2 separate regions of the Homo sapiens genome follow, and region 1 is linked to region 2. Evidence: fine-mapped expression QTL. Tissue or cell type: monocytes after LPS. Region 2 holds a variant in brackets; the other region holds the start of a gene. All regions are shown on one strand. Distances are between the middles of the regions.

Region 1 (5,143 bases), 600 kb before region 2:
GTGACACCACCATCTGTCACCCCAGGGCCAGGCCTCTGTCCTCCCCAGAAACTTGTCCTCGCCCACTCCACCTGCAAGTCCTCTAGGGGCTGAGCACTACACAGGAACACGTGCAGATTCCAGCACCCAGAGGTCCTTCACACCTAGCCACAGGGCCTCTGGCAGCCTCGGCCATCCTCTCTGCGTGCCTGAGGCGGCTGCGCTGAGCAGTGGGGGACCCAGGAAAGGTCACGGCTCCCCCAGCACATCTGACACACCTCCCGCCGGGCCAGCTGCTGGCTTCAGCAAGCAGACGTCCCCTTCCTATGGAAAAGCCCATGAAAGCTGATTTGAAATATCTGAGCAGCTGTTTGAAGGACGTGGATCAGCCCTGTTCAGCGGCCTGAGCGGAGAGCGGGGCCAGAGGTACAAGCCTGGGACGGCCCGCAGGCTCTGGGAGACACAAGTCTTCTCAGACTTAGGCCTCATGGGACCCCAGGGGCCTGGTCAGCTGGGTTCCCCAAGGGCTCACCCACAGAGAGCCTCCGTTCTCAGTGTCGCTGTGGATGACCAACACTAAAACCCCCAAGCCCAGACCGCACCTCGTTCCCGCTCACCTCGGAATCCCTGGAGAAATCAGACATCAGCCCTTTAAAAGTTCCCCAGTGACTTTAACGTGCAACCCAGGTGGGGCGTCACTAGGCCAGGTGTCACCCATGTGTGCCCCCAACTGGAGGCCCTCAGTGGGCTTGTTCGAGGGCCTCCAGGCTGGATGTTCGCCCCAGATGGCCCAGATGGCCTATTTTGTGCATTGTCTGGCTGTGTGGAAACAGAACAGCACCATAGTGACATCTAGCCCGGATGTGGGCATGGCCCACCGACCACTGACCGCCTACGTCGTTCTTCCACCCCGAGCGCCCGCATATCCCGTTCCGTTCACCTCCCACTGGGGTCAACACTCCCTTCACAGCCTCCATCTTCCCCGGGGCAGTCCCATTGCTTTGGAGACTTCAAAAAATTGTACTCACAAAAGGGGTCGACATGTTCTATCTTCTCCTGGAAGCGGGGTGTGTCCTTGTTCCCAGTGACATTCAGCGTGTGCAGGGCCCGTACGCATGCACTCTGGCCTCCAAAGCACCTGTCGTTGTGGAGATTCCACAGCAGGCAGGGTGGAGATGGTGAGCCGCAGACATCACACCTGCCCCAGGTCAGGCCGAGGCTGCTCATCAGGAGCCCCGAGACCTCGAATGCAACGTCTTCAGATCCCAATTCCCTCCCTGCATGGAGCAGAACAGTGTCTCTCAAAAACTCACGCCCACGAGAAGTCTCAGAATGTGGCTTTTAGTAGAAATAGGGTCTCTGCAGATGTCTTTCATTAAGCTGAGGCCATATTGAGTGAGGGTGGATCCCAATCCAGTAACTGGGGTCTGTATAAGGAGAGAGAACAGAGGCACATGAACGGAAGGTCAAGCGACAACGGGTGCAGGGATGGCAGCCAGGCAGCCACAAGCCAAAGGACGCCCAGGATGGCCAGCAGCCCTGGAAGCCGGGAAAGACAAGGGAGGCTCTTCCCCTACAGCCTGCAGAGGGAGCAGGTCATTATCTGTTAATATCTTGATGTTGCAGTTTGGCCTCCAGAACTGTGAGAAATGTGATGTTGTTTGATGCCACCCAGTTTGTGTTCCTCTATTACAGCAGCCCCGGAGACTAGTAAGTGGGTCCCTGGCAGAGGAAGGGGACAGAGCGTCGAATTCTCCTCCCCGCAGGGAGCCACCTGGGCTCCGAGAAACCCTTGCACCGGCCAGAGGCCATGACACTAATGCTGGAATGTTCTCTGTGAGCGATGAAGCTTTCAACCAGACTCCGCTAGAGAAAAATACCCGACAGAACTGTTTACCCGATTAAATGAAATTAAATTCAGTTTTCTTGTTGCCAAGCAGAAATGAGGCCCTGTCATAGGAATGTCTGAGCAGTTATAAAAATAGGAGTTCATGTTTGCACATAGCTGGTTGAAAACAGAAAATTCACACCTGCTCTAAGAGATAAACAATGCACAGCTGAGCGTTGAACTCACACAAACGAGCCACCATGCACTGCAGAACAGAAACAGAAGAAGACTTAAGAAAAAAGCCAAGATAAATGATCACAGCCAGGCACGGTGGCTCATGCCTGTAATCCCAGCACTTTGGGAGGTTGAAGCAGGCAGATCATTTGAGGTCAGGAGTTCAAGACCAGCCTGACCAACATGGTGAAATCCCATCTCTACAAACAAACAAAGAAACAAACAAAGAAACAAACAAAAAATTAGCTGGGTGTGGTGGCAGGTGCCTGTAATCTCAGCTACTCAGGAGGCTGAGGCAGGAGAATCACTTGAACCTGGGAGGCAGAGGTTGCAGTGAGTGGAGATCACACCACTGGACTCCAGCCTGGGTGACAGAGTGAGACTCCATCTCAAAAAAAAAAAAAAAAAAGATCCTTCCTCCCCAATTCCAACACCCCCCAGGAAAACTCAGTCTACAATTGAATATAAAGCAAAGAACTGGCTGTTTGAAAAGTTCATCAAAACGTGCAAATGTCTGGCAAGATAAATAAAGAAAAACCACAAACATAAACCACGCCAGCCTGGGCAAAAGAGTGAGAAGAGAAGAGGGGAGAAGAGGGGAGAAGAGGGGAGGGGAGAAGAGGAGAGAAGAGGGGAGGGGAGGGGAGAAGAGGAGAGAAGAGGGGAGGGGAGGGGAGAAGAGGGGAAGGGAGAAGAGAGGGGAGGGGAGGGGAGAACGGGAGGGGAGGGGAGGGGAGAAGAGGGGAGAAGAGGGGAGGGGAGGAAAGAAAGAGAGAGAAAAGGAGTGAGGGAGGGAGGGAAGGAAGGAAGGAAACCAAAGGCCAGAGGAGAGCCTGGAGGGGGTCCTGCTCACAGCCTCAGAAGGGATCAACCCTGCAGACACCTGGATATCAGACTTTGGCCTCCAGAACTGTAAGATGGTACCTTTCTGTTGTTAAAGCCAGGGGTCCTCAACCCCTGGGGCCACAGACAGTGCCCTGTCTGGGCCACACAACAGGAAGTGAGCAAACGAAGCTTCATCTGTATTTGCAGCCACTCCTCATCACTCATGTTACCGCAGAACTCCGCCTCCTGTCAGATCAGTGGTGGCATTTGATTCTCAGAGGAGCACGAACGGTATTGTAAACTGCGCATGCGAGGGATCTAGGTTGTGGGCTTTTTTTTTTTTTTTTTTTTTTTTTTTTTGAGACACAGTCTCGCTCTGTCGCCCAGGCTGGAGTGCAGTGGCGCAATCTCGGCTCACTGCAAGCCCCGCCTCCCGGGTTCACGCCATTCTCCTGCCTCAGCCTCCTGAGTAGCTGGGACTACAGGTGCCCACCACCATGCCTGGCTAATTTTTTTGTATTTTTAGTAGAGACAGGGTTTCACCGTGTTAGCCAGGATGGTCTCGATCTCCTGACCTCGTGATCTGCCCTCCTGGGCCTCCGAAAGTGCTGGGATTACAGGCGTGAGCCTCCGAGCCCAGCCCCTGAGCCACCGCGCCCAGCGGTTGTGGACTTCTTATGAGAATCTAATGCCTGATGACCTGTCACCATCTCCATCACCCCCAGATGGGTCTGTCTAGTTGCAGGAAAACAAGCTCAGGGCTCCCACTGATTCTTCATGATAGCGCAGTTGTATAAGGATTTCATTATATATTACAATGTAATGATAATAAAGTACACAATCAATGTAATGTGCTTGAATCATCCTGAAACCATCCCCCACCCCTGCCCCCATCCATGGAAAAAATTTTCTTCCACAAAACTCATCCCTGGTGCCAAAAAGGTTGGGGACTGCTGGTTTGAGCCAAAAACAAAAATCAAAAAAACAAAAACAGGCTGGGCACGGTGGGCGGCTCACACCTGTAATGCCAGCACTTGGGGAGGCCAAGGCGGGCAGGTCACTTGAGCCCAGGAGTTTGAGACCACCCTGGGCAACATGGCAAAGCCCCGTCTCTACTAAAAATACAAAAATTAGCAGGGCGTGGTGGCAGGCACCTGTAATCTCAGCTACTTGGGAGGCTGAGGCACGAGAATCACTTGAACCCAGGAAACGGAGGTTGCAGTGAGCTGAGATCACGCCACTGCACTCCAGCCTGAGCGACAGAGAGAGACTGTCTCAAAAACAAAAACAAACTTCTCCCCCTCTCCCTTCCCCCCAGAGGTCGCCAGGCCAACACCATTTTACCGATTCTGACAAACCTTCCATGAATATATAATTTCCATGTTATTTAAATTACTACAGAACCCCTGAAGAGATTATTTTATCTTTTTTTTTATAGAGATGGGGTCTCACTATATTGCCCAGGCCAGTCTCAAACTCCTGGCCTCTGGCAATTCTCCCGCCTCGGCCTCCCAAAGTGCTGGGATTACAGGCAAGAGGTTATTTTTATAAAGTGAAGGTTTTCCTAGGTTATTTTATAAAAGTGAAGGCTTTGCTAGCAAAGACTGACCAAAGTAGTCAAGGAAAATGAGAGATCAATGTCTCACGGGAAATGAGAGATTCAAGAACCCAAATCAACCATCAGCAAGTGGGCAGTAACTGTCCCTATTAAAAATGATCCTTAGGAGGCTGGGTGCGGTGGCTCACACCTGTAATCCCAGCATTTTGGGAGGCCAAGGTGGGAAGATTGCTTGAGCCCAGGAATTTGAGACCAGCCTGGGCAACATGGTGAAACCCTCTCTCTAAAAAAATAAAAGTGATCCCGGCCAGGTATGGTGGCTCACACCTGTAATCCCAGCACTTTGGGAGGCTGAGGCAGGTGGATCATGAGGTCAGGAGATCGAGACCATCCTGGCTAACACAGTGAAACCCCATCTCTACTAAAAATACAAAAAAATTAGCTGGGCATGGTGGCGGTGCCTGTAATCCCAGCTACTTGGGAGGCTGAGGCAGGAGAATGGTGTGAACCCAGGAGGCAGAGCTTGCAGTGAGCCAAGATCACGCCACTGCACTCCAGCCTGGGCAACAGAGTGAGACTCCATCTCAAAAAAAAAAAAAAAATCCCATGACTCAGTAGGCTTGATTCCAGAACATAAGTTTGGTTCAAATTAAGATATTTACCCACATAAATTGTTATATGAATAAACTAAAAGTGAGAGACCATTTGAACATTTCAGT
Region 2 (5,143 bases):
CGTGTGTCCATGCCTCGAGGACCCACAGACCCCAGCTGGGTAGGGGGCTGCTGGGCAGAGCCGGAGGGGGTACTGGGTCCCTTCTGCCTCAGCAGCAAGTCCACAAATGTGTGTGAGGTGCCAACTGCAGGCTGGGCCCATTCCACACCAGGGACCCAGCTTTGAACCAAACAGGTTAACCTTCCTGCACTCCTGGGCTTTACCCCGTACTGGGGAGGAGAGTCAACAAACATAATTTAGAAAATTGTCTTGCATGTCAAAGGGCGACAGTGGTGGGGGAAGCAGGATGGGGGTGTGGGAGGGCAGAGGAGGGGGCTGCAGTGTTCAGCCAGGTGGTCAGAGTAAGTGTAATTGATGAGGTGATGTTCAGGCCCATCTGGATAGGCCCAAAGAGGGGGCTCTGAGGCTTTCTGGGGAGAATATTCCAGCAAAAAGAATATCCCTGGCAAAGGGCATTCCACATCATGGGATATGTCTAGCTATTTGGGGAACCAGCAAGGTGGCCCATGGGCTGGAGTAATGAGAGTGGGCAGGCAGCAGTGGGAGAAGTGGTCAGATCATAGGAGGTCCTATATGGGAGGGTATTGTGAGGACTTTGGCCTTTCTCCAAGAGAAGTGGGAGTCACAGGAGGATTTGGAGCAGAGGAGGAGTGCAGCCCAACTTGGGCTTTAACCGTATTAGCGTCACCCCAACAGCACATTCCCTGGATAGGAAGTGGGCCAGGTGTCTAAAGATGGACCTCATGACCATCTTTGCTCAGCCTGAGGATTTTGTAATGGTTGGTATTCACGGGGAGGTGGGGATGGCTTCCTGGCCTGATGAGCAGTCACCTGCCTGCTATGCTTCCCACCGTGGTCAAGAGAACGCATGGGGTCTGTGACTGCACCCAGTGTGTCCTGGGCATCACCCTGTGGAGCAGGAGGAGCCTGGGATGTGGCAAAACTCAGACCTGAGCTCAAATTCCAGACCAGCCACTGTCCTGCTGGGCAGCTTTGAGCAGATTACTTAACCTTTCTGAGCCTCTGTTCCCTTTTTGGTAGAGTGGGGATGGCAACATCTACCTTCCTGGGGTGACTATGGGGGTTTAGCAGTCACCAAGGTGGAGGGTCTGGCACACAGGTATTGGATAAAAAATATCACATTAATCAAGGGACATGGGCATTTGCAGGTATGTGAGTTAGGAAAGAGGGAGCGTGAGGCTGGCAAATTTCTACACCAGCGTGAGACTGGATAAGGACAGACTCCAGCTCTGACAAGTTGCTCGGGAGGCTCTGGGACCTGCCAGGCCTGGGGGAACCCACTAAGCATTCTGGGCAGGGACCTCTCACTCTGGCCTGCGCGGAGCATCTGCAGAAGCAGCAGAAGGCTGCGGTGCCTCCAACCCCGCCTTGCTCCCCTTTCTCACTCCCGTGTCTCTTCCCTCCCTCCTTCCCTCTCCCTCTAACTTATCTGCAAGCGCCAGCCAGTTGGCAGGCTGGACACTCAGCAAAGGAGCCATGGAGACTTCTTGCTGGTTTTGGCCGAGACCACCAGTTTTGTGTGTTGAGTCCCCAGAGGCGAATTCCAGCAGAGGAGGGACAAAGTAAGTCCTGAGAGGTCCAGCGAAGCAGCGAGCCAGAGAACATCCACAGAGGCAGGTTGGGCCTCAGTTTCGGAGTGGTTTCCCCTTTTCCTCCTGGGCTGGTGTCCTTTGATCCCATGGACCAGATGGAGGTGTCCCCATGGATGTCAGAAATCCAGCCCACCCCTAAGAGGGGGTGAGTATTGTTTGAGCATCAGCTCGTCCAGGGCAGGGGCTTTGTTTGGCTCCTTGTTGCATCTCAAGCATGTCATTTGTGCTCACTGCACAGGAGATGAGCAGGTCTCTGATGCCAGTGGGGGACTCTGCCATAGAGAAGGATTCAGCACAGGGCCCCGCTCATTCCCGGCTGGCTGGGGGATGGCGGCGTGGGGAGGCTGACTGGCGGCGGTTACTCACTCTTCCATGGCTTATAACTGGAGCACATGTGATGGCCAAGAGGCAAAAAGCAAAGTGCCCAGGAAGACCCTGACCAGCCTGAGGGATGCAGGCAGGTGGCCTCAGTGTCCAGGTGAGGGTGGGAGAAATCCAGGGGCAGGGGAAGGTAGGCTCGGGGCCTCTGTGTTGGTTTTTCCTTCTGAGCTGGTAATGCCAAGGCCAGCGAGGTCCTGAATTGTAGCCATCACATTGCATGGACCTCCACTTTGCTTAGTGGGGAGCAGATAGGTACTGCAGCTTTTTAGCCACCAACAGCGATAAAACCCACCTTCTTTGTGGACCTCCCCCTACGAATCCTCTGGAGAGACAAGGGGCCCTGCGGTCAGCGTCAATGTAAGGCCTGCAGGGTCAGAAGGACCCAGGTGTGGGCAGCCAGGCTGGCCAGGGACGCATGTCTTCCCTGCCCTTCCTCCGTAGGACGGAGCCTGGCCTGCTCCTCCTTCTAAGCTGCTTACAGGTCTCTCTCGTCACCTGTTCTGTCTTAAGTGGGATTGTGTCAAGACCTCACTATCTCGCCTCTCCTCCCTGGCGCTATCCGTGGGCTCTCCGTGTTCCCTCCGGCCTGTGCCTTGGCAAAGCTGTC[C/T]GCTCCGGAGCGGGCGGGGTGGCCATGAAGCCTGAGAGAGAGGTGTGTGTCCTGCTCTCTGCACCGTGACGCCTCCCGCTCCCTGAAAACCAGGGAGAAATTACTCTGCCCAAGCGGAACACGCCCGGACAAGCCTCCTCTCCAGCTGTAATTAATACTCTGGGGAAAACACAGACTTGGGGTTTTCATACTTCCACACAAACACACACACACTCACAGATTTCTTTCCATTGTCCTCCGATCCCATCTCAAATGTTTAATGTCCTGCTTCTTTCATGGGTAGCACAAAACCACCCAACTGGATACATCCAGAAAGCCAAGGGAGGCACCAGGGACCCTCTTCAGGTTCCGTGATGCAGAACTTGAGCGTTTGGGAGCTGATTTGCCAACAAGCAGTGCCCAGGCTGCATCCCTGACGTGGAGCAAAGCAGCTTTGGCCTTCTCAGAGTCAGAAATAGCCGTGAGTTTGGGTTAACCCTTTGTGGTCAACATTCTGGGGCATTGCTCTTTATTTCCCCCATCACAGTAGCCTAACTGATGCGCTAGTCCAAACACGTGTGCGCATACCAAGCGCTCCTGCCACCTGACTCATTACAAAACACTCTGGTGAGGCAGGAGCCTTGCAGTTCCATGAAGCTAGGCAGCTGGCAACTCTGATATTGGAAATGTTCTCTCAAAGGACAGGAGAGGGCCGGGCGCAGTGGCTCATGCCTGTAATCCCAGCACTTTGGGAGGCCGAGATGGGCGGATCACTTGAGGTCAGGAGTTCAAGACCAGCTGGCCAATATGGTGAAATCCCATCTCTACTAAAAATACAAAAAAAGTAGCCAGGCGTGGTGGCATACGCCTGTAATCCCAGCTACTTGGGAGGCTGAGGCAGGAGAATGGCTTGAGCACGGTAGGCAGAGGTTGCAGTGAGCCGAGACTGTGCCATCGCACTCCAGCCTGGGTGACAGTGTGAATGAGACTCTGTCAAAAAAAAAAAAAAAAAAAAAAAAAAAAAAAAAAAAAGGGACAGGGCTGGGCGTGGTGGCTCACATCTGTAATCCCAGCACTTTGGGAGGCCGAGGAGGGCAGATCACTTGAGGTCAGGAGTTTGACACCAGCCTGACCAACATGGTGAAACACCATCTCTACTAAAAATACAAAAAAATTAGCCAAGTGTGGTGGTGCACATCTGCAATCCCAGCTACTCAAGAGGCTGAAGCAGGATAATTGCTTGAACCTGGGAGGCAGAGGTTACAGTGAGCTGAGATGGTGCCACTACACTCCAACCTGGGTGACAGAGCAAGACTCCATCTCAAAAAAAAAAAAAAAAAAAAAAAAGACAGGAGAGCTCAAGTGGGCCAGGAAGGGTGGAGTCCTCTGCATCTCCCACTGGTCAGAGAGCTCCTTTGGGGTGGCATGAGGAGGTGGGGATGGGAATGGGCTCAGAAATCCAAACCCGTGAAATCCACAGTCTCCTACAGGGAGGCTTGACTTCTCCAGGGAAATTCTCAGTGTGAAAAGTAGCCTGAACAACCAGGACTGTGGTCTTGCCTTGGCCACTTCCAACGTGGGCCTGGGTGAATAATCGACCCATCCTAAGCCTCAGTTTCCTCATCTGTAGAATAGGGACACCATTCCTGCCTTTTGAACAGGCCTGTTGTACGGATGACATGGGACGGCAGGTTTCACTTGTGATGACCTGTGTCCAAGCTCCTAATCAGCTGGAGATGCTGTGCCCAGATAAAGGATTGGGTATGTCCGACTCAGCTGAGGCAGGTGCAGGGACCATGATTTGGAAGACCAAACAGGCTCAGCTTCTCATGGGTCCTCCTCAGCTATTCTCACTGGGGGCAAGGGGGGTGCCGCCCAGAGGCACAGTGACACGCAGTGATGATGAGGCTGGTTGGGTTGCCGTCGGCCTCTAGGTTCCCTTCTCCCCAGTTTTCTCATGTTCCTCACCACCCAGTCTTTGAGAGGCTTGGAGGCATTGTTTTTCTCTCACTTTCTCTCCATATTTATTTATTTATTTTTTTGAGATGGAGTCTTGCTTTGTCACCCAGGCTGGAGTGCAGTGGTACGATCTTGGCTCACTGCTACCTCTGCCTCCTGGGTTCAAGCGATTCTCCTGCTTCAGCCTCCAGAGTAGCTGGGACTACAGTCACCCGCCACCATACCCGGCTAATTTTTTGTATTTTTAGTAGAGATGGGGTTTCACCATGTTGGCCAGGCTGGTCTCGATCTGCTGACCTCGTGATCCGCCCGCCTCGGCCTCCCAAAGTGCTGGGATTACAGGGGTGAGCCACGGCACCCGGCTCTCCTTATTCTTTACAATCAAAATGTTCCTGAGAAGAAACGCTGTGAAGCAGTCTTGCTAAGCCTTTCCAGAGCTAAGTTCCGGCTCCTGCAGAGCCCTCATCATTGAGGAGAGGAGGCTGTTCTCAAGGCATGGGAAGCAAAGGTGCCTGTCTCTACACTAGGACTGTGTGTCCCAGGCTCACGAGTGCTTCTGACAGCCCTGTAGCTCGTCTCCTTCCACCCTGCAGGGGACTGGGGA

Evidence for each region. PIP is the estimated chance that this variant, and not a neighbour inherited with it, causes the effect.
Region 1: SCAT1 starts here. The variant in region 2 is fine-mapped to the expression of SCAT1 in monocytes after LPS (Quach 2016, PIP 0.95).

Annotation. Positions count from the first base shown.
Region 1 is chr17:78,629,025-78,634,167 of GRCh38, forward strand. SCAT1 (S-phase cancer associated transcript 1) reads right to left here and starts at 3,033. Exons shown (of 5, transcript NR_110849.1): 1 at 2,966-3,033; 2 at 1,008-1,406. RefSeq lists an enhancer at 2,867-3,368.
Region 2 is chr17:79,225,656-79,230,798 of GRCh38, forward strand. All of the region lies in intron 4 of RBFOX3 (RNA binding fox-1 homolog 3), which reads right to left. Among named protein-coding and RNA genes, the nearest start is that of ENGASE, 150 kb to the left of the region's middle. RefSeq lists an enhancer at 1,968-2,739. The variant C/T (reference allele first, on the strand shown) is at 2,602.